2 linked regions of the Homo sapiens genome follow. The protein of the gene in region 2 binds, or shares a complex with, the protein of the main gene of each other region. Each region holds a gene or a part of one and is shown on either strand. Other genes may lie near its edges.

What was found.
Region 1: ZBTB8OS (region 2) and RTRAF share a complex: the UniProt entries of both Homo sapiens proteins name them as parts of the tRNA-splicing ligase complex.

Annotation. Positions count from the first base shown.
Region 1 is NC_000014.9:51,992,519-52,002,966, reverse strand, and holds part of RTRAF (RNA transcription, translation and transport factor protein), read right to left. Parts: intron 9,245-10,448; coding exon 9,145-9,244; intron 4,474-9,144; coding exon 4,387-4,473; intron 3,260-4,386; coding exon 3,171-3,259; intron 1,170-3,170; coding exon 1,101-1,169; intron 1-1,100. UniProt on the Homo sapiens protein: RNA-binding protein involved in modulation of mRNA transcription by Polymerase II. Component of the tRNA-splicing ligase complex and is required for tRNA ligation.
Region 2 is NC_000001.11:32,624,486-32,634,933, forward strand, and holds part of ZBTB8OS (protein archease), read right to left. Parts: intron 10,314-10,448; exon of another isoform or gene 10,308-10,313; coding exon 10,283-10,307; exon of another isoform or gene 10,231-10,282; coding exon of another isoform or gene 10,217-10,230; intron 9,626-10,216; exon of another isoform or gene 9,588-9,625; coding exon 9,466-9,587; intron 9,243-9,465; coding exon 9,160-9,242; intron 8,870-9,159; coding exon of another isoform or gene 8,825-8,869; exon of another isoform or gene 8,094-8,824; intron 7,861-8,093; coding exon of another isoform or gene 7,837-7,860; exon of another isoform or gene 7,723-7,836; intron 7,395-7,722; coding exon 7,342-7,394; intron 3,381-7,341; coding exon of another isoform or gene 3,292-3,380; intron 3,060-3,291; coding exon 3,023-3,059; intron 1-3,022. UniProt on the Homo sapiens protein: Component of the tRNA-splicing ligase complex required to facilitate the enzymatic turnover of catalytic subunit RTCB. Together with DDX1, acts by facilitating the guanylylation of RTCB, a key intermediate step in tRNA ligation.

The sequences.
Region 1 (10,448 bases), on a different chromosome or scaffold from region 2:
CTGTTCTATAGGGAGGGTGAAATAAGCTGATCTTTAACCCAACTTCCAGTGGCTCGATTCATATACAACGAGCCAGTAAGAACCTTTAAAAGAAAACAGTGTCTTTCAGAGATACTGCCCTGGCATTAGTAACCTTTTAACACTGCTTGGCCTGCCTAAAGGGGCTGGAGGACAAAAGGCATTGGGAGATGGGGGAAGGGCGCAGGGAGGACAAACAACATAGTTGTGCCCAAGGCATTCACTACAACATCATTGCTGCAGGAGGCAGGTGTTATCAGACACTGCTGCTGCTGACCTGAGGACAGTCTCTCCACCGCTGCACAGCCAGTGAAACTTTAGGCATCTTTGGATTTCTGATATAATCTAAAAATGTTCCATATTTTCTCTTTAAGGGGAAGGTAGTCATGGGATATAGCTTTTCTCAGCCTACAAGGTAGGACTGAAAGATACCATTTCAGTCACCTGTACCTTGAACCTTACACTCCAACAGAACCCCCTGTCCCTTCACCTGGGCAGACTGACAAGCTCATGCAGACATCCACGCATGGACCCTTCTCCCCACCTACCGTAAGAGCACAGGCTCTCAAGTCAGACTGCCTGAGCTCAGTCACTTACCAACTAGGTGACCTTAGCCAAATTACTTTCTCATGTTTTATGCCAGGAAATTGAATAAAACAAGAATTTACTCTGAAGAAATAAGAGCAAGGATAGAATTTAGATAGAAAAAGAAAACTAATTTGTAGTGAGGTGTGTTCCTTCTTCTCCAGCATGAGTCAAAATAATCCAGTAAGTTTCATATGGGTAACTCATTTTAAATAAACTTCAACGGGCCACAAGCATGATTTGTGGACTGTGCATGAGCTATTTGTGGCTTTTTTAAGGTACAAAGTGAGAGGAACATGAAGTTTTTCACTCAAAAATGACCCCCTAGCCACTGAATACATTCAATTTGCTTTAGGAAGCACTGAAGTAAGCTATCCTTTCTCTAAGTTGTAGAACGTAGAATGGATATCTTAAACAGATACATGCAAAGTTTAAAATCACGGCCATACCAGAAGAAATGTTCATTAACAACTTATTTAGGATTTATAGAAACGTACCTCTTTTGTTTGATTTGCCTTAGCAACTGCATCCTGTGTCAGGCGCTCCTGAACCAAAATCCGAATTGCCTAAGAAACCCAAAAATATTTTTACTTTTTATAGGCTGTGTACCTGTCATCCTTTCTTCTATGAGCCCAGAGAATAAGGATGCTCATTTTGATGAAGTCAGAATTACCTAAGTTCATTAATAAACTCCCCATTAAATTAAAAATAAAAAAAACCCACTAATATAACGTAACCTTTCACACTTCTAGTATTTTAATAATGTTGAATGGTGCTTGCAACAATTAAAACCATTTTTTGAATAGGTAATGCACGTGACTGGTAAAAAACAACTTTAAATACAGCAAGACACATGGTAAAAAGTAGGTCTCCTTCCTACCTGAGCCTTGCGATCCCCTACAGATTCCTTACCCTCACTAAAACTGCGAAATGACGAGCATGCTTAGCACGAATACACATTTTTGACACAAAGGGTAGCAGATCATACATACTGTCTTACACTTTGCTTTTATCACTTCACTCTAGTAAAATATTTTCAAACCTTTCAAAGGACACCGTTGGTGGTTTTAATCACCAAGGCATTTCATTATGGTAGGCATGCATGCAAGTATCCATACACACTTAAAAATCAAATTTTAAAAAAATGGAATTTTAATTAGGAAGATGACAATTACAACTCAAAAATAAGTGTGAAAACTTAAACTATAATTTTTAAATAAAAAACCAAATGCTATCTTTGAAAAACCGAATTCAAACAATGTTTAACAGTTATTGCAGATGTTATTAAATAGTCTGGTTGCCAAACAGTTAATATACTGATGCTTGTACTTGGCAAACGTACTAAGATGTTTTCCATATTATGTTATTGTTTGAATGCCTCTTAAAATAACTCAAAAGGGACAAATGTGCAGCAGGACTAGAATTTTATAGCATTTTGTTGTAGTTGATTTATACTTTATCCCCTTGGGTTTTGAAGTCTAACAAAAGCATCCCAAATACGCTATGCATTGTCTGACTCTCCTCTCACTTACTTTATGATTAAAGCTGACATGATCACTATAGAACAGTTCCAAGGCAATTTACATAATTGTCGGAATAAAGAACAAGCCTTTGAAATAGCTAAATTTCACTAAAAACATTTTTGTCTTTTGGCATGCAATCTGGATTGAGAAAATCCAAGTTAACATTCAGATTCAGTATAGAAAATTTTAATAACTTAGGAATACAACAGTCTTGTTAAAACTGACATTTAATAATAAAAATCTAAAAAGCATGGTAAGTTATGGCTTAATCTCTTCTGGGTAGAGTGATATTTATCACAAAGTAGTTTACATGCACAAGGTCTAGTTAAAAGCTTTTAATCTCTTATAAAATTTCCAAGTCTGGTATCTTAAGTACCACTCCCCTGATCCACACCACTGTACTTTCACGATTACTAGGAATAAATCTTCTGAAGTTTATGATTTCTCTCAGAAACAAGAGACCTCTTTCAGATTACTGGGATTCCTGAAGTATAGTTATGAACTGAGTGGCCTATCTAGCATCGGGGACAGAAAGATTCATTTCTCAAAGAGATTTTGGGGTTATATATTTTTGACCAAATTCACCATTACTCATTTGGCATTTTCGACCATCTTAACAAATGCAGACTATGAATCATTAAAAAGACTAACTAAACAGAAGTAGGGTAATGTGGGAAAAACAATGGACCACAGGGTTATAGTGCTTAAAATCCTGGCTCTGTCATTTTCTGTGTCATCTTAGACATTATCCTCATTGAGTCTCAGTTTCTTCATATGATATATATTTTTAAAAAGATATTAGCAGCTGTCTCTAGGATTGTTGGCAGGATTGAATGAGAACATCTTTGCAAAGGATTTAGCATAGTGCAGGCAGAAAACAGAATCCAAATCAGATAAAACCATGAAATCTACTTTATGTTTCATATTCTTCTGTGTATTTTAGTCATTCAACCATAATTTTAATATCAATAGTTAATATTTAGAAAATAAAGACATTTTTCTATGTGCACAGTTTCTGTCAAGAATCAAGAACATGAAGCTGACCTTAAGCATTACCAGGTAATCATCATGACGCTGAATCTGAAGCAGGTTAGCCAAAGCCATCACACCAGCCTTAAAATCAGGATTATTTACTATAAAAGATTAAAAACAAACAAAAACTTACAACCCTGCAAACGTATAATTACAAACATATTTGTGAACATACAAAAACATTTTTAACTTTTCGGTAGCAACAAATCTCTTAGTTTTTAAAACTGCTACTCACAAGAGAAAAAAGAAAGCCCTGTAGACTATCAACAATTAAATAAATTGGTAAGATAAAATGGTTTTCCTATTACTGTATGAGACGGTCCCCAACTTAGGATGGTTAGACTTGTAATTTTTTGACCTTACAATGAGTTCAGTGGGATGTAACCCTAGTGCAAGATGAGGAAAATCTGAACTTACAGTGGTTCCAACTACAATTTTTCAGCTTTACAATGGGTCTTCCGGGGTATTAAATGCATTTTTGACTTATGATATTTTCGACTTTGGGACATGATCTCATCCTAAGTCAAGGAGTATCTGTATTTCATCAGCCAAACTGAATAATCCAATAAATGACTAATTTAACTCACATTATATTTGTCCTGTAACTTTTTCTGCAAGGCTAAATTATACAGCACTTTTAATTAACATTTCTTCCCAAGGCCATTAATTTTAGTACATAGATCCCCTCCATGGATAGTTTTCCCAAAACCTTCTCTCTAAGCAGCAGCTCTGGAGTGTCCAAGAGGCTCACTCATTCAAAAGGGTTAACTCCTAAATTATAGGTCACAATGAATTAGCCAGTGAACAAATATTTTACACATCATAATTTAGGTAATTAGATTCTTCATATTTTTAAAAAGGGAAATTACTAAAAGATATCCAGGACTTAAAATAATGGAAAATTTTACCACTTGTCTGATAGAGTCATTGGATTAAAAGAAATTTACACATTCAAAAAGGCAAACAATGACCCCCATGATTAAATACAAATCAAAACTCCAAATTACTAGAAGCAAATCAAATCAACATTCAGATATTCAAATGCAAGGGGAAGGAGAAAGCACATCATAAAAACATTATAGAGAATAAAATGTTAACATAAATGCTGTCTGCATGGATCCTTCTAAATTTACTAAAACCAAGTAAACCTGGACTTCATTCTTCAAAGAAAAAAACATTTAAAAAACCAAAAATGTTGATGTTCAATGTTATGCATTTATATACTCACCATCCAAATTGATCAATGGTTCTGCATTTTTAGTTGCATTGTCAGCAGTTTTTGAATTATCAGGTACTAAATCCTTGTATTTTTCAGCTATAAAAACAGGCAAAAATATAATTTGTACAACTGCAACTCAAGGTAAAATGACTACTGCTATTTACCAAATTTAACTGAGCCAAAATGATTACAGGTTGAGTTTCCCTTACTGGAAATGCCAATAATTTCCAATTTTAAATTTTTTCAGACTTCGGATTATCTGCATATATAAAATGGGATATTTTGGGGATGGGACTGAAGTCTAAACACAAAATTCATTTTTATGTTCAATGTACAACTTATACACATAGCCTGAAGGTAATTTCATATAATATTTTTAATAATTTTGTGCATGAAATAAAGTTTGTGTTAAGTGCTTATGTGTGGAAATTTCTACTTGTGTCCTCATGTCAGTGCTCAAAAAGTTTTGGATTTTGGAGCATTTAGGATTTCAGATTCTCGGATTAGGGATGCTTAACCTGTATAAGCATAAAACAATTCATTCAATCAAGCTTAATTTTTGCTATAGAAAATGTAAAAAGACAATGTAACTATCTTTTTGATTAAGCTAAAGCAATTACTGGACTATGTGACACAAATATCTTTTCATTAACATTTCTAAAGGCAATCATTTCAAACATGTAAATTTTAGGAAGGTAAAAATCTGCTTTTACAGCTTCCTCTGAAATCTGGGGTAGAAGAATGGGAGGAGGGTTAAGTATAGGTTACGTAAGATTAAATACAAACTCATTAAAAAGTACGCTTCCCCCCATCTTCTTTTGAATGCTGTACATAAAATCCAAAAACCTTGCTTTCCCCAAAAAAATCAATACATCAAATACACCATCATATACAAACCTCAAACTTATTTCATGGAAACTTGAAATTCAGAATTCCAAAGGTAGATTTTATTATTTTCATTTGAAAAACAATACTTCAAAGGAATTCAAAAATAAAAACACTTATTAATAATTCACTAAACTTAATGTTCAAAATGGCATCTTAGGCTATACAGTGCTTATGGGATCTGTTAATGAAACGAGGAAAAAATAAAAGCATAAAATTTAAGTCAGAGTTAAAAAGGCTTCCACTGGCCAAATCTGGAACAGTATCAACAGCAAAATACGTGATGACAGAAAGGATTATAATCCATTGAATAAAATAAAAATCCATGTATCTATACTGATTTAAACAAGTAAATTAGAGATGGGAAAACTTACAAGAGAAAGCCAACAAATAAATGTAGAAAAAATGATGAAATTAGAGAACACCTTTTGTCGATTAACATAATAAATGACTGAGGCAAGAATCATCATATGGTTGCTAAAACTAGTGGGGGAAACTTGAGGCGCAAAAACATAATTGATACAGTCTCAAAGTACCTCCCCACAAGATATATTTATTACAAAGAGGAAAATAGTAACTTTACAGTGGAGAAACCATAACCTAGTGATCAAAGTAACATAACTAGTAATGGGACATATCGCTATCACGTATCTCCTAATATGATGCACTAAAAAGAACACATCACTTCTGTGTTACTCCTAACAAAAGTATAAACCCCAAATCTAATCATGAGGAAACATCATATAAATCCAAATTGAGGGACACTCTACAAAATAAATGTCAGGGTCATGAAGCACAAATAAAGACAGGAACTGTTCCAGATTTTAAGATACTAAGACAGATGTAACAACTAATGCGGTGCATAATCCAGGATTGCTCTGGGTTATTTTTTTCTTTCGAGAGAAGTGGGGGGTTTGGTAAAATGTGAATAAATAATAGTATATCAAAGATAACTTCCTGATTTTGATCACTGTACTGTGGTTATATAAGACAAAGTTGTTTTTAGGAAATGCACTTTAAAGTGTTTAAGAGTAAAAAGGAATCATCTATAATTTACTATCAAATGGTTTGGAAAAAAATGGTGTGTGCCTCTGTGTAGAGAGAAGGATGAAGCAAATGAGGTAACACGCTACATTTGTAGACTTGAGGTATATGAAAATCTTTGTACTATTTTGTAATTTTTCTATACATCTGAAATTATACATTTAAAAAATTTCAGTTATTGATCATGTTGACAAGCTACCAAAAGGCTTCAAAAAATAGTAGAGCGCAAATAATAAAAACTCACAATGGTTTCAGCAAATTTTAAAATAAGTAACTTAAAAGTCAAGGAGGCAACATATCAATGTAAAACCACAAAAGAACATCAGCGCCTCCTACCGATTAGAGACAGTATTATTTGACCAATTTTCAAGTCTGTTTTTGCAATTCTGAATTTTAATAAACAAAACTTGTTTTCTAGCTTAGACTTTTAATATACTTTTGATACCATTCACCTTCAAGTATATGTTGACTTCCTTTTTCAATATTGAAAAATTTACATTCCACACACAAGCTTCTTTTATTCACTAAAAGAACATGCTATTACTGAGAAATACATGTACTTACTAAAGTCAACTGCAGGTATACATGACCATATGCATCTACCATTGAAGGTTAACGGGTTATAAAAATGGAACAAATAGAATAAAACAAATAAACTGAGATGTAAGAATTTGGGAATAAATGAAAAACAGTTTTGATAAGCTACAAATTGGCTCATATACAATTCCTACCAATCCAGAGCAGGGTAGATAAAAAGACCTTGTTAAAGGCCCTAAAATCAATACTACACTAAAGCCATAAGGCTTATGAATACATGTATTTTCTAAAGAAAGAAAAGTTTTTTTTTTTTAAATTAAATGGAAAAGTAAACGAAGTCTCAAATTGAGCTTTCCTTAAGATTTTTGCCATAAGGCTTCTGAAATTTAAGTCTGAGGCATCAGCAAAAAATTGGCTGATGCTCCAAATCAGTGTATGTAAACACTCACATATACTGCATTCGCCACACATTACTGAAATTGATAAGCACCTGTTGTGTGCAAGAAACTATGTCAGGTACTGTGACAGACACAATATTGACCTGTACCCCCCAAGATGTCCATGTCCTGATCCCTGGAACCTGTGTATGTGTTACCTTACATGGCAAGATTTGCAAATATGATAAAATTAAGGATCTTGAGATAGGGGATTATCCTGGATTATCCAGGTGGGCTCAGGAGGATCAGAGCCAGAGACAAAGTTATGACAATGGAAGCAGAATCAGATAAGAGACTGGAAAATGCTATGCTGCTAGACTTGAAGAAGGAAGAAGGGGCCAGAGTCAAGGAATTCAGGCAGCCTCTAGAAGTTAAAAAAGGAAAGAAACAGATTCCCCCGAGAGCCTCCAAAAGGAACCTGCCTTGCTGACAACTTGACATGAACCCAGTGAGGCTAATGTTGGCCTTCTCATTCTAAAATAATAAATTGTGTTTTCAGTCACTGAGTTTGTAGTAATTTGTTACAGCATCAATTGGAAGCTAAGAGAGGTACCATGTAGGAATCAAAGCTGAGTATCAGTTTACAAATTACTGGGACGAATAAGACATAGAAGCAAAATGGAAAGTGGTTAATGACTTAAAATGTATAGGGTTAAAAGCTATGGAAGTTCAGAGGGAAATTATACTGCTGCTAAGACATAAGACAGCATATGAGATGGATCTTAAAAAGATGGGTAGGATTTAGATGTGTAGATAGAATGAAATGGTATATTAGCCAAGGGAAAAGTGTGAACAAAGAAACAGAGGGGGAAATGGGATATAAACAGGAAGCACTATTATTCTAATTTAGCTGGGATGTCAAGATGTGAATACAGGTTGGATATCAGTCATCATTAACTACCATGCTAAGGAGCTTAAAATTCTTTTTATAGAAAATGGGAAATTAGTGTTTATGGATATGTATGTTTATTAATATGAATATGTAACTGGAACTGTTCTTTGGAAACAAGGAGTAAGTGGCATCCTAAAATAGATTAACGTTTCAGAAAGTTAGCTTGGTTGGCCATGCAGTTAAGAACAGAAGGTGACACTAATGGGAGATATTATAATACTCCTGGCAGAAAGTGACAAGAGCCTGAATTAGGATTATGCCAATGGGAATGAAGATACAACAAACATGAGAAAAAGTCAGTGTAGGTGGGATGAAGGGAAAGGGATAAGCCAAGATATAAAAAGGCTTCCAAAGTAAATAATTAAGAAGACTGTAACTAACCGAAAAACACAAAATGCAGGGGATGCAGATAAGATAATCAAATCTTGCATTTAGATGTTGGCAGGCCTTTCAAAATGAAATGGTCTAATAAGAGAAAACACCCGTTTAAAGAAAAATTGTTTTTACTATAGGTACTAACATTCAGAAGCTTCCAACCATAGAAGTATCTGTGCTAAGACAGTAAACATAAGTAATATATTCTGGCCTATAGAGTATTAATGTATATTGGCATTAGACATGTTTCAGTCTTTTGAGAAATTACCTACTGCAACAACACTTCAAAGTCCCATCAATTCTGGGACACTAAAAACAATTTAATTTGAAAGGCTAAGGTGCAGACCATATTATCAAAGTAGTGTTACTCTGTGAGAAGACAGTCAATTAGCCTTCTCCAGAGGGCACCATTTCCAAATTCTAACAGAAATATATAAACACCAATGAAAGACAATAAAAGTGCTTTTAACTTGTGATAAGAATAAACCAAAGGTAAAATAGTACTAGACAAAACAAACTGCAAAGTTCCCTACATTTTCACACTCCCTTTCCCATCTTTCCTCTCTCTTTAAAATACACATTCCCCACAAAACGTACCATTATCTCCATATTCAAGTCTAACAGCTAAACCAAGAAGCCAGTCAATAGCTTCTTGTCGATCTTGAATCTTGAAAGGACAGTTAACATCTCTGAGATACTGTGAGGGGGAAGAAAAGAAAACCACCAGTTTCATTATTACCATAAAGTCACAGAAAAAAGAATGGGAGAGTTGAAAGAGACCTTAGTTTGGATCTCTAACAATTTTTTAATAACATTACTACACTTTTGATGCAATTATATAACCCAACAGAAGGGAACATTTAAGTGTATCATCTTAAGAAAAAAAATAGAATACGACAACTTCCTCATTTTATAGATGAGAAAGCTGAGGCCTAGAGATTGACACTTGCCAAGGGTTACACAACTTACACCTGGGACTAGAATCTAAGCTTTCTGATTCCTAGTCTCAATACACATAGAGCAATTAACTAAAAAGAATAACTTTAAAAAGGATATACAATAAATCATTATCTATCTAAACCTTAACTTTCATATTATGGAAATGCCACTGAAAAGAGTAGCCATGTAACATACATGTAGGGTGTAACCAAGTAATTTAAATAAATGTCAGAAGCTGTATATTCAAATAAATGTTGCATATAATAGTATTATATGTAACATTAATTATATGTAATATAAGATTATAATAAAATCAACTTGAAGGATAATAACTGTTTAGGTTCTGATATGTTGAAATTATTCTTACTGTCATTCCAGGTGTTTCACATCAGAAATACGTGTGTGTATATGTACATATATACACACACATACATACATATTTCTTTTTTTTGAGACAGAGTCTTGTTCTGTTGCCCAGGCTGGAGTGCAATGGCACAATCTTGGCTCACTGCAACCTCCGCCTCCTGAGTTCAAATGATTCTCCTGGCTCAGCCCCCTGGGCAGCTGAGATTACACACATGCGCCACCACACCTGGCTAATTTTGTGTTTTTAGTAGAGACGGGGTTTCGCCACGTTGGCCCGGCTGGTCTCGAACCCCTGACCTCAGGTGATCCACCCATCTTGGCTTCCCAAACTGCTTGGATTATAGGCATGAGCCACCGTGCCCAGCCTAGACAATTTTTTATATTCTCCAGATACCTTTCTACATGCAGAATTCTGTACTGTCTTGTACACATGAATAGACCATAAAATGTAATATAAACAAACATAAAATCCTAAAAATATATTTCAAAGTTTTAAGAAGTCCACTGAAAATTTTAAAAATATTTTCTAAGAGCAAAGGAAAAGAATACAGTAGTATTAATAGTAGTAGTATAGAGGCATTGGCAGTAATAAGCTT
Region 2 (10,448 bases):
TCATGGAGAGAAGGTAAAGACAGTATTAAAACCAGGAAGGTATTTTTAAACCAAGAAATATTCCAGGAACCAGATGTTTTAATAAGCTATTTGTAAAACATTCCTTTTTGCTTTGAAAAGTTGATTGGCTGGGCCCAGTGGCTCATGCCTGTAATCTCAGCACTTTGGGAGGCCGAGGCAGGTGGATCACCTGAAGTCAGGAGTTTGAGACCAGCCTGACCAACATGGTGAAACCCCACCTCTACTAAAAATACAAAAATTAGCCGGCTGTGGTGGCATACACCTGTAATCCCAGCTACTCAGGAGGCAGAGACAGGAGAATCGCTTGAACCTGGGAGGTGGAGGTTGCAGTGAGCTGAGATTACACCACTGCACTCCAGCCTGGGCAACAGAGTAAGACTCCATCTCAAAAAAAAAAAAAGAGTTATTTGATCATTCATTCAAAAAATAAGAAGTAGCTGGGTGCAGTGGCTCACGCTTATAATCCCAGCACTTTGGGAGGCCAAGGTGGGTGGATCACCTGAGGTCGGGAGTTCGAAACCAGCCTGGCCAACATGGTGAAACCCAGTCTCTACTAAAATACAAAAATTAGCCTGGCATGGTTGCATGGGCCTGTAATCCCAGCTACTCGGGAGGCTGAGACACGAGAATCGCTTGAACCTGGGAGGGGGAGGTTGCAGTGAGTAGAGGTCACGTCACTGCACTCCAGCCTGGGTGACAGGGTGAGACTGTCTCAAAAAAAAAAAGAAAGAATAATAATAATAAAAAAAACTGTTGGCTGGGCGCGATGGCTCACGCCTCTTTTGGGAGGCTGAGGTAGGTAAATCACCTGAGCTCAGGAGTTCGAGATCAGCCTGGCCAACATGGTGAAACCCCATCTCTACTAAAAATACAAAAAATTAGCCAGGTATGGCGTCATGTGCCTGTAATCACAGCTACTTGTGAGGCTGAGGCAGGAGAATCGCTTGAACCTGGGAGGCGGAGGTTGCAGTGAGCTGAGATCGTGCCACTGCACTCCAGCCTGGGCAATAGCATGAGACTCCGTCTCAAAAACAAAACAAAACAAAACAAAACAAAACAAAACAAAAACTGTTAGGAGTACCAAGCTGGAATTGGTGGTGTGCACCTGTAAGCTCAGCTACTCAGGAGACTGAAGTGGGGGGATTGCTTGAGACTAGGAGTTTCGGATCAGCCTGGGCAACACAGCAAGGCACTGTCTCACATAAACAAAAACTCTTAGGAATAAATGAAATTAATTTGCTCACAATCCATTCTGAACACTTCCAATGACAAATATGAATTTAGAATACAGTTATGTGCCGCATAACATTTTGGTCAATGACTAACTGCATATATGATGGTGGTCTGAGAAGATTATAATGCTGTTTCTTTTTTTTTTTTTTAGATGGAGTTTTGCTCTTGTCGCCCAGGCTGGAGTGTGCAATGGCGTGATCTCCGCTCACTGCAACCTCTGCCTCCCAGGTTCAAGCGATTCTCCTGCCTCAGCCTCCCGAATAGCTGGGATTACAAGCGCCCGCCACCGCACCCAGCTAATTTTTGTATTTTTAGTAGAGATGGGGTTTCACCACGTTGGCCGGGCTGGTCTAGAACTCCTGACTTCAGGTGATTCACCCACCTCGGCCTCCCAAAATGCGGGGATTACAGGCGTGAACCACCACGCCGGGCCTATAATACTGTATTTTTACTATACCTTTTTTTGGTATTTAGAAATATAAATACACAAATATTTACCAATGTGTAACAACTGCCTATAGTATTCAGTATAGTAACATGCTGTACAGGTTCATAGCCTAGGAGCAATAGGCTATACCATATAGCATAGGTTATAGCATCTAGGTTTGTGTAAGTACACTCCATGATGTTTGCACAATGATGTAATCGCCTAAAGATGCATTTCTCAGAATGTATCCCAGTAGTTAAGTGACCTGTCTGTATCTGGCCTAAACACAGGGGTCAGCAAAATATATATAGCCCACAGGCCAAATTGCCTCTTTTTGTACAGTCCCATAAAGTAAGAGTGATTTTTACATCTTTATTTATTTACTTTTATTTTATTTTTTTGAGACCAGTCTCGCTCTGTCACCCAGGCTGGAGTGCAGTGGCATGATCTCGGCTCACTGCAACCTCTGCCACCCAGGTTAAAGTGATTCTCCTGCCTCAGCCTCCTGAGCAGCTAGGATTACAGGCGCGTGCCACCACGCCCAGCTAATTTTTGTATTTTTAGTAGAGGCTAGGTTTCACTATGTTGGCCAGGCTGGTCTCAAACTCCTGACCTAAAGCGATCTGCCTGCCTTGGCCTCCCAAAGTGCTGGGATTACAGGTCTGAGCCACCATGCCTGCCCTGATTTTTACATTTTTAAATGGTTGGGGAAAAAAATCAAAACAATGACATTTTGTTACATTTGAAAATGATAAGAAATTCAAATTTCAATGGGCATAAATAAGTTTTACTAGAATACAAGTGAACTCATTCATTTAAGTATTATCTATGGCTACTTTGGTGCTACAACAGAAGCACTGAGTAGCTGCTCTTCTGTCATTCTGGGCCCACAAATCTTAAAACATTTATTATCTGTCCATTTTACAGAAAAAAACTGCCAACTCCTGTTCCAATAGATTTTCCTACCATAGAGTGAGGCCATACAGGTCGGCAAATACAGAATCTAGAGACACACAGAAAGTAGAAGGCACAATAGAGAACATCTAGTCCAACATCTTTATTATAGGAGAAGAAATAAAGGTCAAAAAGGCAAAGAGAATTTCAAATTCCACAATAATCTGAACAAACTTGACCCTAGAACCCAATGCTGACGCCTCATCCACTAAATCAGGTGTGTATAATCACAGTATTTTAACAAAATATATCCAGACAGGTCAGAGAAGCTTGAGAAAAACTTATCACTTTACACCAGTTAGAACTAACTGAAGTTGATTGTCACATATATGAACTTTATGGTAAGGAAATTTTTCATGTTCTTAATGGCTGGATTTTAAAACATACCTGAGGGTGCTTGGACAATGAAAATTCTTCTCCCCACCTTGAGAATACAAATTAAAACATGATTAAGATTTGTTCTCTCTTTATATGTTTTAAAATAAGCCTTGTAAATGTGGTTAACATGCTAGAAAGCCAAAAGAGACAGGAGGGGGTCAGGGAGCTGTTAAGTTTCATTTTCATTTGTCAGAAGATACAGCTGTTGAGGGACGTGTGTGCAGTGTCATCATTTGCTCTCAAGGTTGATAGTTAAGGCCAGGTGCGGTGGCTCATACCTATAATCCTGGCACTTCCGGAGGCCAAAGGGAGGATCGCTTGAGCCCAGGAGTTTGAGAACAGCCTGAGCAACATAGGGAGACCTCATCTGTACACAAAATTAAAAAAATAAAAAAAGTTAGCTGGGTGTGGTGGCACATGCCTGTGGTCCCAGCCACTCACGAGGAGGAGGCAGGAAGATTGCTTGAGCCCAGAAGTCAAGGCTGCAGTGAGCTGTGATTGCACCACCGCACTCTAGCCTGGGTGTCAGGGCAAGACTGTGTTTCAAAAGAATTTTTAATTATAGGCCAGGCGCGGTGGCTCATGCCTGTAACCCCAGCACTTTGGGAGGCCGAAGCAGGTGGATCATCTGAGGTCGGCAGTTGAGGTCGGCAGTTTGAGACCAGCCTGACCAACATGGAAAAACCCTGTCTCTACTAAAAACACAAAATTAGCCGGGCGTGGTGGCGCATGTCTGTAATCCCAGCTACTTGGGAGGCAGAGGCAGGAGAATCGCTTGAACCCAGGAGGTGGAGGTTGCAGTGAGCCAAGATCGCGCCACTGCACTCCACCCTAGGCAACAGAGCGAAATGAAAAAGGTCAGGCGCGGTGGCTCATGCCTGTAATCCCAGCACTTTGGGAGGCCGAGGTAGGCGGATCACCTGAGGTCAGGAGTTCAAGACCAGCCTGGCCAACATGATGAAACTCTGTCTCTACTAAAAATACAAAAATTAGCCAGGCGTGGTGGTAGGCACCTGTAATCCGAACTACTCAGGAGGCTGAGGCAGGAGAATCGCTTGAGCCAGGAGGCGGAGATTGCAGTGAGCTGAGATCATGCCACTGCACTCCAGCCTGGGCAACAGAGCGAGACTCTGTCTCAAAAAAAAAAAAAAATTTAATTCTAGTGGCCAGGCACAGTGGCTCCCACCTGTAATCCCAGCACTTTGGGAGGCAGAGGTAGATGAATCCAGGAGTTCAAGACCAGCCTGGCCAACATGGTGAGAACTCGTCTCTACTAAAAATACAAAAATTAGGCAGGCATGGTTCCATGCGCCCGTGGTCCCACCTACTCGGGAGGCTGAGGCACAAGAATGGTTTGAATCTGGGAGGCGGACATTGCAGTGAACCAAGATCACATCATTGCACTCCCAGCCTGGGCAACAGAGTGAGACTGTCTAAAAAACAAACAAACAAAAAATTAATTTTAAAAACTTTAAAAAAAGGTTGATAGTTGATCTCAAAATAAATGTGCCCCAATATAGTGTACCTATGGTGGAATCTCAATAAACATTGTTTAGTAAATATTGTTTCAAAACAGAGTAGTAACATATTCAAAATTTTTACTATCCTCAGTTATGAAACTAGTTAAGTAGGCTGGGTGCGGTGGCTCACACCTGTAATCTCAGCACTTTGGGAGACTGAGGCAGGAAGATAGCTTGAGCTCAGGGGTTTGAGACCAGCCTGGGCAATGTAGCGAGACCCTGTCTCTACAAAAGATTAAAAAAAAAAATTAGCCAGGCATGGTGGCATATGTCTGTTGTCCTAGCTAGGTGGGAGGTTGAGGTAGGAGGATTGCTTGAGCCCAAAAGGTCATGGCTGCAGTGAGCCATGATCATGCCACTGCACTCCAGGCTGAGAGACAAAGCAAAACCCTCTCTCAAAACAAAAACAACAAAAACAAAACAAAAAAGAAAAACAAAAACTAATTAAATAATACCTCCCACTGGAGAAAGCAAGTCTGAGTACCACAAAGGCAAAATACTAGACTCTATAATACAGTCCGAACTTGGTTTACACTTTACAACTTTTCCAAAAATATCCATGATCTGTATATAGAAGGCCCTAGAAAAGTAATCTAGAACTTAGGATCAGTCTCCTCTCTGTCTTTGACACTAATGTGAGTGAAGATCACAACGTGGTATAATAGAAAGAGCAAAGCTTTAAAATTCTGTTCAAACACTTATTAGCTAGTACTTTTGGACATGCTTGTTTCTTTTTTTTTTTTTTTTTTTTTTGAGCCAGAGTCTCGCGCTGTTGCCAGGCTGGAGTGCAGTGGCACAATCTTGGCTCACTGCAACCTCTGCCTCCTGGGTTCAAGCGATTCTCCTGCCTCAGCCTCCTGAGTAGTTCAGATTACAGGTGCCCACCACCACACCTGGCTAATTTTTGTATTTTTAGTAGGGATGGGGTTCCACCATGTTGGCTAGGATGGTCTCAATCTCTTGACCTCCTGATCTGCCCGCCTCGGCCTCCCAAAGTGCTGGGATTACAGGCGTGAGCCACTGCACCCAGCAAGCCTGTTTCTTTACTCATTAAAAAACAACAAAAAACAAAACAAAACAAAAACACAGAGAAGATAATAAAAGATCTCACTTTACAAAAAGAAGTGAATGAAATTCAATATAAAATGGGGCCACAGGAGTTAGAGACCAGCCTAGCAACATAGCAAGACCCCATCTCTATAAAAAATTAAAAATTAGCTGAGATTAGCCAGGCATGGTGGCAGGCGCCTGTAATCCCAGCTACTCAGGAGGCTCAGGCAGGAGAATCGCTTGAACTCTGGAGGCAGAGGTTGCAGCGAGCCAAGACTGCACCACTGCCCTCCAGCCTGGGCAACAGAGCAAGACTCTGTCTCAACAACAACAAATTAGCTGGGCATGGTAGTGCGCACCTGTAGTCCCAGCTACTTGGGAGGCTGAGAAAGGAGGATCACTTGAACCCAGGAGTTCAAAGCTGCAGTGAGCCATGATTACACCACTGCACTCCAGCCTGGGGGACAGGGCAAGACCCTGTCTCAAATCAATCAATCAATCAATCAAATTAAATTAAATTAAATGGAGCCGGGCGTGGTGGTATGCACCTGTTGTCCCAGCTACTCAGGAGGCCAAGGCAGGAGGATCACTTGAGCCCAGGAGTTTGAGGATGCCTGGGCAACATAGTGAATGAGAACCCATTTCTAAAAAAATAAATGAGGCCGGGCACAGTGGCTCAAGCCTGTAATCTCGACACTTTGGGAGGGCTGATGCGGGCAGATCACCTGAGGTCAGGAGCTTCAGACCAGCCTGGCCAACACAGTGAAACCCCGTCTATACTAAAAATACAAAAAATTAGCCAGGCGTGGTAGCAGGCGCGTATAATCTCAGCTACTCGGGAGGCTGAGGCAGAAGAATCGCTTGAACCCAGGAGGTGGAGGTTGCAGTGAGCTGAGATCACACACTCCAGCCTGAGCAACAGAGCGAGACTCTGTCTCAAAAATAAATAAATAAATAATAAATGAAAATAAAATAAAAAAGCTATATGTAAAAGTAACCTAGGAGGGCCAGGCACAGTGGCTCATGCCTATTACCTCAGCACTTTGGGAGGCAGAGGCCAGAGGACTGCTTGAGCCCAGGAGTTTGAGACCAGCCTGGGCAACATGGGGAGACCCCATCTCTTCAGAAAACAAAAAAGTCAGCCAGGCATAGTGGCACACTTGGTGGTCCCAGCTATTCAGGAGGCTGAGGTGGGAGGATCCCTTGAGCCCAGGAGGCTGAAGCTGCAGTGAGCCATGACCACACCACTGTACTCCAGCCTGGGAGACAGAACAAGACCCTGTATCAAAAAAAAAAAAAAAGAAAAAAAAGAAAAAACCTAAAAAATATAATTAAGTGACTAAAGAAACCTGAGAAACAAGTCCAATCAAAGTGACCTAATCAAGTGTTTGCAAACTCTGGAAGGAAAATAAAAGTACGATTTGTTAAAAGAAGGAATTGATTTAAATAGGTCTAGAAGTGAGAACATATGAGAAAAAAAGTGTCAGTGTTTCCCATCCACTAAGCTGGGCTTTATGCTGTGCCATTTAGCAATTACACATATTCTCTCCCTAAAAAATCAACAAATTGGGAATCAGATTTAACAATTAAAATCAACTTTATTTTGTTAAGTTTCTGGTCCTTCCAAGCCCTTAGACATCCCACAAAACTCAATCTGCAAGTGGCCCTCTGATTTATGTTTCCATCTGTTTCCTTGCTCATTGAATTCAATGAAGAATATAACTTTAACTCGGTACTTAAAAGACTTTCAAAACTTACCCAATTGATCGTAATTTGAAATTTCTTTGATCAATGCTAAGTACTTTCACTTCCTAGACAGGAAGAAAAATTTTTTAATTAAAAAAAGTTCATAATAGACTATCTACTAAAAATCTTTTTGTTCTGTTTTGTTTTTTTGGACCATCTACTAAAAATTGGTAAAACCTTTTTTTTTTTTTTTTTTTTTTTTTTTGAGATGGAGCCTTACTCCATCGCCCAGGCTGGAGTACAGTGGCGTGATCTCGGCTCACTGCAACCTCCACCTCCCAGGTTCAAGCAATTCTCCTGTCTCAACCTGCTGAGCATCTGGGACTACAGGCGCCTGCCACCACGCCCGGCCAATCAATTTTTTTTGTATTTTTAGTAGAGACGGGGTTTCACCTTATTGGTCAGACTGGTCTCGAACTCCTGACCTCAGGTGATCCACCTGCCTCGGCTTCCCAAAGTGCTGGGATTACAGGCGTAAGCCACCGCGCCTGGCCTTTACAACCTTTTCTAGAAAACAATAGCACACAACTTCTGTGAAGCAAAGAAAATTAAAATGTTAGCTAAAATAGGACAACAAATGAGATATATATGTATGCAGTTTTTTTTGTTTGTTTGTTTGAGACAAGGTTTCACTCTGTTGCCCAGTCTGGAGTGCCATGGCATGATCTTGGCTCACTGCAACCTTCACCTCCCGAGCTCAAGCAATCCTCCCACCTCAGCCTCTGGAGTAGCTGGGACCACAGGCATGTGCCACTGCGCCCAGATAATTATTGTTTTTTTGTTTTTTTTGAGACAGGGAGTTTCGCCATGTTGCCCAAGCTGAGTATTAAATATATTTCAAGGAAATAAGTTTTTTCTTACATATTCAAGGGAGGTATTCTAGAAAAATGTAAGATCTAAAAATATGAGTCAAAAGAATTTCTCTGCAAGATATATGGTAGAGAACTACTCTGGGCACACAGGGGCAGTACCTCTGCCGCTGCTGTACACTGCCACTTCAATAAAAGCTGTTGTTTAACGCTGGGGGAAAACAGATATATGGTGGAGGAGGACGACATAGGATTTCAATCACTCTGAGCCTAATAAACTACTGGTAGGCACTTGAATTCTGTAGGATGAGTGACTCAGTTGATAGAATGAGTATAAGTAGTGAAGCTGGTAAAGCAGAGAATGGAGGAATTATAAAAGCAGAGAGTGCCATCTCTATTAAATAACAATGACATTGCAGATGTGTTCCCTTCTAAAGGATGACAGCAGCAAGCAATCTCCATTTGGCTTTTCCTTTTTTCATGTTAAGGAAAACTAAAAGCTGCAGTTGTTTAACTTAGGCCAATGTGACAGGGCTACTAAATTTCATGGAACAAAAGGAAAAAATGGATGGACATAAATATAGCTCAAACTTGGGAAACATAAAAAGTGTGGATGAGGCTGCGTGCAATGCTCACACCTGTAATCCCAGCACTTTGCAAAATTGAGGCAGGAGGATTGCCGGAAGCTAGGAGTTCAAGACTAGCCTCGACAACATAGCAACACCCTGTCTCTATCAAAAACAAAAACAGAAAAAAATGTGGATGAAAACTGTAGGTACATTTTTATCACACAATCCTGATTAGTGACAAATACATGAGATCTAAATACGAAATGTTCCCACATAGGCAAATGCAGGTTAACCAGGAAGTGCCCGTGGTCATTATAATCTCTGCAAATCAGTATCATCTTATTTGTATGGATTGGTTTTGTTTCACATGTCCTATTTTAAATCATCTGTTCTATTTTAAAATATGAACTAAGAATCCATTTGCTCAGTAAAAAAGAAAAACCTTTGCTTACCCGGGGTATGAAGAATTCATCAGCACTGAACTTATAAAGCCATTCATCCAAAAAGTGAAACAGAAGAGACTGTAAGTCATCTCCTACACAAGATCAAATAGTATATTTAATAATTCTGGTCTCTAAAAACATACTTGAATTTAAAAGTGCAATAAATAAATGTCTTAGGTCAGTTTAAAGAGAAAGAAAAGACTCATCCTTAATTTTCTGGTTCTTTTTGTGAAAATATACTCAGATTATGTAGAATACTGCACAATTCTATACAGTACTGTATAACAATTTCTTCCTTGTGAATAAATCATTTACCTTGGGTTTCTACTTCTACTGTTTGGAGGGGCTCCACTGTCCCAGTATCTGTCATGTAACCAAACATGGCCATTGCACATTGCTCAAATGCTTCCTCCAGAGTATCTCCCCATGCGTGTAACCTAAAGAAGTATATTCATGCTCTGTGTAATACAATCCACTGCAAGAAAGAAAATTTGATAGCAGGCAAAGTCAAAATAAATTCAGTATGATAAATACAAATTTTAAGGCCTCAATCAATTTAACAGCACTGCAACCAGGTGCTTTTCTTTTTATTATTTATTTATGATTTTTTAGACTGAGTCTCACTCTGTTGCCCAAGCTGGAGTGCAGTAGTGCGATCTCGGGTCACTGCAACCTCTGCCTCCTGGGTTCAAGCAATTCTCCTGCCTCAGCCTCACAAGTAGCTGGGATTACAGGCAGGCACCACCAGACCCGGCTAATTTTTGTATTTTTAGTAGAGACGGGGTTTTACCATGTTGGTCAGGCTGGTCTCGAACTCCTGACCTCATGATCCGTCCGCCTCAGCCTCCCAAAGTGCTGGGATTACAGGCGTTGAGCCACCACACCCGGCCTTATTTTTATTTTTTATTTTTTGAGATGGGGTCTCTCTGTCACCCAGGCTGGGGTGCAGTGGTGCAATCTCGGCTCACTGAGCCACTGAACCCTGCAAAACTGAGTGCTTTCAAACCATCATTTTCATATTGTGAAGGAACCAAAATGAGAGGAGAAAAATTAAAGATAGGGATACCAAGATTGAAACATTCAGTCTTCCTACTGACGTGGTTTCAAAGGAATGAACTCCCGCTATACTCACTGGACATCTGCTGTATGATCCAAATCTGAGGGACAGAGGGAAAAACACTTATAAGACACTAAACTTGACTCTCAAATCACACACACAAAATAACTCTAGTCCATTATTATTAGGAATATCATCTTTAAAGAGCAAGAAAATGTGGGCCAGTCCATCCACACCTTTT